Homo sapiens: one gene and its partner. The protein of the gene in region 1 purifies or fractionates together with the protein of each later gene. This does not show direct contact. Each region holds a gene or a part of one and is shown in the gene's direction. Other genes may lie near its edges.

What was found. The genes of interacting proteins can lie anywhere in the genome.
Region 2: the proteins of SRP54 (region 1) and SMC4 fractionate together in Homo sapiens (co-fractionation; one large-scale study listed by BioGRID). This does not show direct contact.

The regions. Positions count from the first base shown.
Region 1 is NC_000014.9:35,017,492-35,020,991, forward strand, and holds part of SRP54 (signal recognition particle subunit SRP54), read left to right. Parts: intron 1-1,200; coding exon 1,201-1,274; intron 1,275-1,474; coding exon 1,475-1,583; intron 1,584-3,500. UniProt on the Homo sapiens protein: Component of the signal recognition particle (SRP) complex, a ribonucleoprotein complex that mediates the cotranslational targeting of secretory and membrane proteins to the endoplasmic reticulum (ER).
Region 2 is NC_000003.12:160,430,650-160,433,051, forward strand, and holds part of SMC4 (structural maintenance of chromosomes protein 4), read left to right. Parts: coding exon 1-94; intron 95-382; coding exon 383-556; intron 557-993; coding exon 994-1,176; intron 1,177-1,633; coding exon 1,634-1,866; intron 1,867-2,376; coding exon 2,377-2,402. UniProt on the Homo sapiens protein: Central component of the condensin complex, a complex required for conversion of interphase chromatin into mitotic-like condense chromosomes.

The DNA.
Region 1 (3,500 bases):
TAATCCTCTCTTCCACTGTTTAATTCTGCGTTTCTAGTTGACTGCTATAACATTTCTTTTAAGATACTGTACTGCCACTTCACATTCAGAATGCCTGAACCAAATACCTTTTCTCTTTTTATCTTTAGGACATAAATAGAAAATACTTTCTCTTTTGGCTTGTTCCATCCCTGTTTTTAAACCTTAGGTTAGTATACATACAATGAAATGCTCAAATCCTAAGGATACCTTTCTTTTTTTGACAAATGCACAGTAACCCACACCCAATCAAGAAACAGAACATTTCCATTACTCTAAAAGGTTTGCTTGTGCCCTTTCCCGGTAATACTTCATATTATAGAAGTCCTGGGCTGTGCATGGTGGCTCACACTGTAATCCTAGTGCTTTAGGAGGCCAAGGTGGGAGGATCATTTGAGGTCAGGAGTTTGAGACCAGCCTGGGCAATGTAGTGAGACCCATATCTCTTAGAAAAATCCAGTGGCATGCATCCATAGTCATAACTACTCTGGAGACTGAGGCAGGCGGTCACTTGAGCTCAAGAGTTTGAGGCTACCAGTGTGTGATGACTGTACCACTTCAATCCAGTCTCAGTGATAGAGCACAACCCTCTTAAAAAAATAAAGAAATTCTGAGTATATCGTTTTTCTTCCAATCTGTTTTCTTTGACTAAGCATATTTTGATATTAATTCATGTAGTTGTACTTATCTATAGTTTGTTCTTTTTATTGCTGAATAATATTTTTTCCACAGTGTATCCATTTTCCTGTTCATAGATACCTAAGCTATTTAAGAAACTCCAAACAATCTTCTAAAGTGTCTTGCTATTCTATATTCTCACCAATATATGGGAGTTCTTTGTGGTCCACATCCACTTTAACTTTTGATATTGTCAACCTTTAAAATTTTACTCATCCTAGTAGGTGTAGTTTATGTGCCTTGTTTTCAGGTTTCTTGTGTGTTTGTATATGTGTCTTCTCAGATAGAATGTAAGCTTCTCTATGATAGGACCTGTCTTTGTCTATGTATTCTCCCCAGCATTCATCCTGTCATCTTGCACATGGTAACTGCTTGGTGAATATTTATTGATGTATATTTTATAAATATGCTTCAAGATGAATTCATGATTAAGGAATAAATTAGTTTTGTTGAATGGAAATGTACATACTTTAATATATCCGAATTATTTACATTGTATTTCAGGTCAGTTTACGTTGCGAGACATGTATGAGCAATTTCAAAATATCATGAAAATGGGCCCCTTCAGTCAGATCTTGGTTAGTTATCCTTAAAACTTTATACCTTCTTTTGTTTTCATTAAATTTTCTAAAATAGATACACTTGCTTTAATTATTTTTACATTCGGGTAAAAATATATCTAAGACTTAGTGTCAATATTAAACCTAATAGTTAAATGTGGACATTTTGAACCATTAATCTTAAGCTACTATTGACTTTATGTTTAAATCTGTTGTAGGGGATGATCCCTGGTTTTGGGACAGATTTTATGAGCAAAGGAAATGAACAGGAGTCAATGGCAAGGCTAAAGAAATTAATGACAATAATGGATAGTATGAATGATCAAGGTAAGATGGCAGATTATTTTCCTCAGGCAAAAATGTTCTGAGTATCAGTAAGATGAGAGTTTCACTGTATTCTTGTGGACAAGATGGGGAGAAATTTAGCCTGAAAGATTATTTTTAGGTAGATTTGTAATAGCTTGAAAGCTCTTACTCAAAGGGTTATGATTATTGGATTGCCTTCATCGTTGAGAGAAATGTCTAGTATAATACTTCTCCAAATGAGTTACAAGGAAAGAACACTAGTTCTTCATGATGTTCATAGAGTTAACTTAAAAGGAGAACTCTGAGTCAAATGTGGTGGAATGCTAGTTTTTAAAGAGTTAAATTTGGCTGGGTGAGGTGGCTCACACCTGTAATCCTAGCACTTTGGCAGGCCAAGGTGGGAAGATTACTTGAGGCCAGGAGTTTAAGACCAACCTGGCCAAACGTAGCAAGACCCTGCCTCTATGAAAAAAAATTATTTACTGAAAGTCTCTTCACGGAGCTTTAATATTGCTAACATACATTGGGAAACTAAGAAATGGATAGCTTAAGCAATGCTTAGAAAATTCTTTCTGTCTGAAACATAAGAATTCAGTTTTCTCAGTATACTGCTCTGTTCCCCTGACCCTATAAAGGCATGCCTCAGAGATACTGTGGGTTTGGTTCTAGACCACTGCAGTAAAGGAAATATCATGCAATAAAGTCAGTCATACAGATTGTTTTGGTTTTCCAGTGTATATAAAAGTTATGTTTACAAATACATATACTGTAGTCTATTAAGTGTGCAAGAGCATTATATCTAAAAAACAATGTATATACCTTAATTTAAAAATAGTTGATTGTTGGCCGGGCGCAGTGGCTCACGACGCCTGTAATCCCAGCACTTTGGGAGGCTGAGGCGGGCGGATCACCTGAGGTCAGGAGTTTGACACCAGCCTGGCTAACATGGTAAAACCCCGTTTCTACTAAAAATACAAAAAAATTAGCCGGGCGTGGTGGCACACACCTGTAATCCCAGCTACTTGGGAGGCTGAGGCAGGAGAATCGCTTGAACCCGGGAGGCGGAGGTTGCAGTGAGCCGAGATTGTGTCATTGCACTCCAGCCTGGGCGACAGAGTGAGACTCTGTCTCAAAAGAAAAAAATAAAAAAATATAGTTTATTGCTAAAAATGCTAATGATCATCTAAGCCTTCAGTGCATTATAATCTTTTTGCTGGTGGAGGGCCTTAGCTTGATGTTGATGACTGCTAACTGATTACAGTGATGGTTGCCAAAGGTCAAGGTGGCTGTGACAATTTCTTAAAACACAAGAATGAAATTTGCCCCATTGATTGACTCTTCTTTTCACAAAAGATTTCTCTGTAGTATTCGATGCTGTTCGATAGCATTTTACCCACAGTAGAACGTCTTCCAAAATTGGAGTCAGTTCTGTCAAACCCTGCTGCTGCTGCTTTATCAACTAAGTTTATGTAATATTCTAACAATTTGAACAATTTTTCATATCTGTGCTTTATCTACTATCTGATTTATTGTTATTTTTTTGTAGTCTCTTTTTCCTGAGCTCCAGGTTTTCATAGTAGCCCAAATAAGACTGTCTTTTTCTTTTAAGGTTGTTTTTTTTCCTCACTGTCTTTAACACTGCAAAAATGTTTGCATGTAGAATTCATAATTGCAGCATATCTAAAGTATCCATTCTGTGCCAGGCACTGTCCTGAGCACTTTAAATATATTAATTCATTTTATCATCATAACAACTCCTATGGCATATTCAGTTATTATCTGCCTTTTTCAAATTAGGAAACTGGGATACAGGGAAGTTGAGTAATTTGCCCAGTATAGAACCTTTCCTGACTTCCTTCCTTCTTTGAATTAACGCCCCTTCCTCTATTTGCTTAACTCTGTCGTATTACTTGCCACGATGTGCTGCTATTAGTTTAT
Region 2 (2,402 bases), on another chromosome or scaffold:
AGATACTGAGAAAGAGGTGGATGACCTAACAGCAGAGCTGAAAAGTCTTGAGGACAAAGCAGCAGAGGTCGTAAAGAATACAAATGCTGCAGAGGTATGAGTTGCTTTGTATTGAAGAGGAGATGGGATGATACTGGAACCAATTTAAAGAGCTGGATATATGACAGTGCCTAGAATGTAGTAAGCACTCATAGACTTAAAGTTTTATAACTATCAATTTTTATTTGTACAATAAGAATACTATAATTTGTGAATTTAAATGCTTAAATTATTTTAAAATGGAAGGGGCATGAGGAGAGATTGGTAATTCCTTCATCTCTGTAATGTGAAAATGATGGCTCTATTTGGAAAATTCTATCTAGCAGTTCTTTTCGGTGTTTAGGAATCCTTACCAGAGATCCAGAAAGAACATCGCAATCTGCTTCAAGAATTAAAAGTTATTCAAGAAAATGAACATGCTCTTCAAAAAGATGCACTTAGTATTAAGTTGAAACTTGAACAAATAGATGGTCACATTGCTGAACATAATTCTAAAATAAAATATTGGCACAAAGAGGTGAGATTGTTACCGTTTAGTTTAATTTTAAACATATTCTTTATGAAAAAGGAGGGTTTGGGGAGGATTGTTTTAGGGGGTTGGGGTTCTTAAATTTTGTTTGTGAGCTACATTGTGATTTTTAATTCTGTGATCACTTCTAAGGTTTATAGGGGACATAACAATATAAATTGTTATATACAGAAAAGTCTGAGTAACGATTAGAATTAGACAACTACCCTTTCACCCTAGGGCTGATCTGGACATTTAAGAAAAGATTACATGGACACTTTTGAGTGTTACAACTATTTTTCTTGAAGTCCTTTGAAAAATAATTGATAAATCAGTCACAACTCCTGTTGTTTTCATAGCTGTGTAATTTGTCATATTTTTTTTTAAACAATGAATTGTATGTAATATTATGCCTTCTCTAACTCTCCCCTAAATTGAACTTTTAGATTTCAAAAATATCACTGCATCCTATAGAAGATAATCCTATTGAAGAGATTTCGGTTCTAAGCCCAGAGGATCTTGAAGCGATCAAGAATCCAGATTCTATAACAAATCAAATTGCACTTTTGGAAGCCCGGTGTCATGAAATGAAACCAAACCTCGGTGCCATCGCAGAGTATAAAAAGAAGGTATGAATGAACTGTGTATGTATACTAGTTGGAGTTCTTTTTAGTCCTTAGCCTAAATTCTGATCTTTAGTTTTGTATAATTAACAATGCTGTTGGCCGGGCGTGGTGGCTCACGCCTGTAATCCCAGCACTTTGGGAGGCCAAAGGCGGGTGGATCACAAGGTCAGGAGTTCGAGACCAGCTGGGCCAACATAGTGAAACCTCATCTCTATTAAAGATACAAAAAATTAGCCAGGCGTTGTGGCACGTGCCTGTAATCCCGGGTACTCGGGAGGCTGAGGCAGGAGAATCGCTTGAACCTGGGAGGTGGAGGTTGCCGTGAGCCGAGATCGCGCCATTGCACTCCAGCCTGGGCGTCAGGGCAAGACTACGTCTCAAAACAAAGTAATAATTAACAATGCTAATTATCATATCAAATTTATCTGAATAGATTTTCCCTATCATAATCTTTTCACAGGAAGAATTGTATTTGCAACGGGTAGCAGAATTGGACAAAATTACTTATGAAAGAGACAGTTTTAGACAGGCATATGAAGATCTTCGGAAACAAAGGCTTAATGAATTTATGGCAGGTTTTTATATAATAACAAATAAATTAAAGGAAAATTACCAAATGCTTACTTTGGGAGGGGACGCCGAACTCGAGCTTGTAGACAGCTTGGATCCTTTCTCTGAAGGAATCATGTTCAGGTGTGTAATTATGCTGAGTTTATAATCCCACTGTTACCTTTTTCTACATATTCTCCAAACTCAGTATTTCTTGGAGGTAGGATGTGAAGGCAAGATGTACAACTTGTTTCATTTACTAGTAAATACTAATTTGCTTGCATGCTATTTATGCTTGCAGTTTACAGGGGCAGACAGCCAGTATTTACAAAATATTTGTCTAGTTCATCTTTTCTTAAATTTTCAAGGCATTTTTAACATGAGGATTGAGAAATTGTATTTGATAAGGAGAAAGAATAGCAAGAAGTATAATACTTAGCTTGCTCTTTAAATCTTAAAACTTTGGTATGTGCTCCTATGTATGCATCCTCCAATAACGTTTTTATAAAATAACAGAAAAGAGAATTCATATTTGTGAAAAGCAAGTTACAGATTCCTAAAAAAGATAGTAGAACTCAATTATGGAAAGCAAATCACAAAGTCTTAACTTTAGCTTTACAGGTAATTTGACTATGATTTTCTTAATCATTTCAGTGTTCGACCACCTAAGAAAAGTTGGA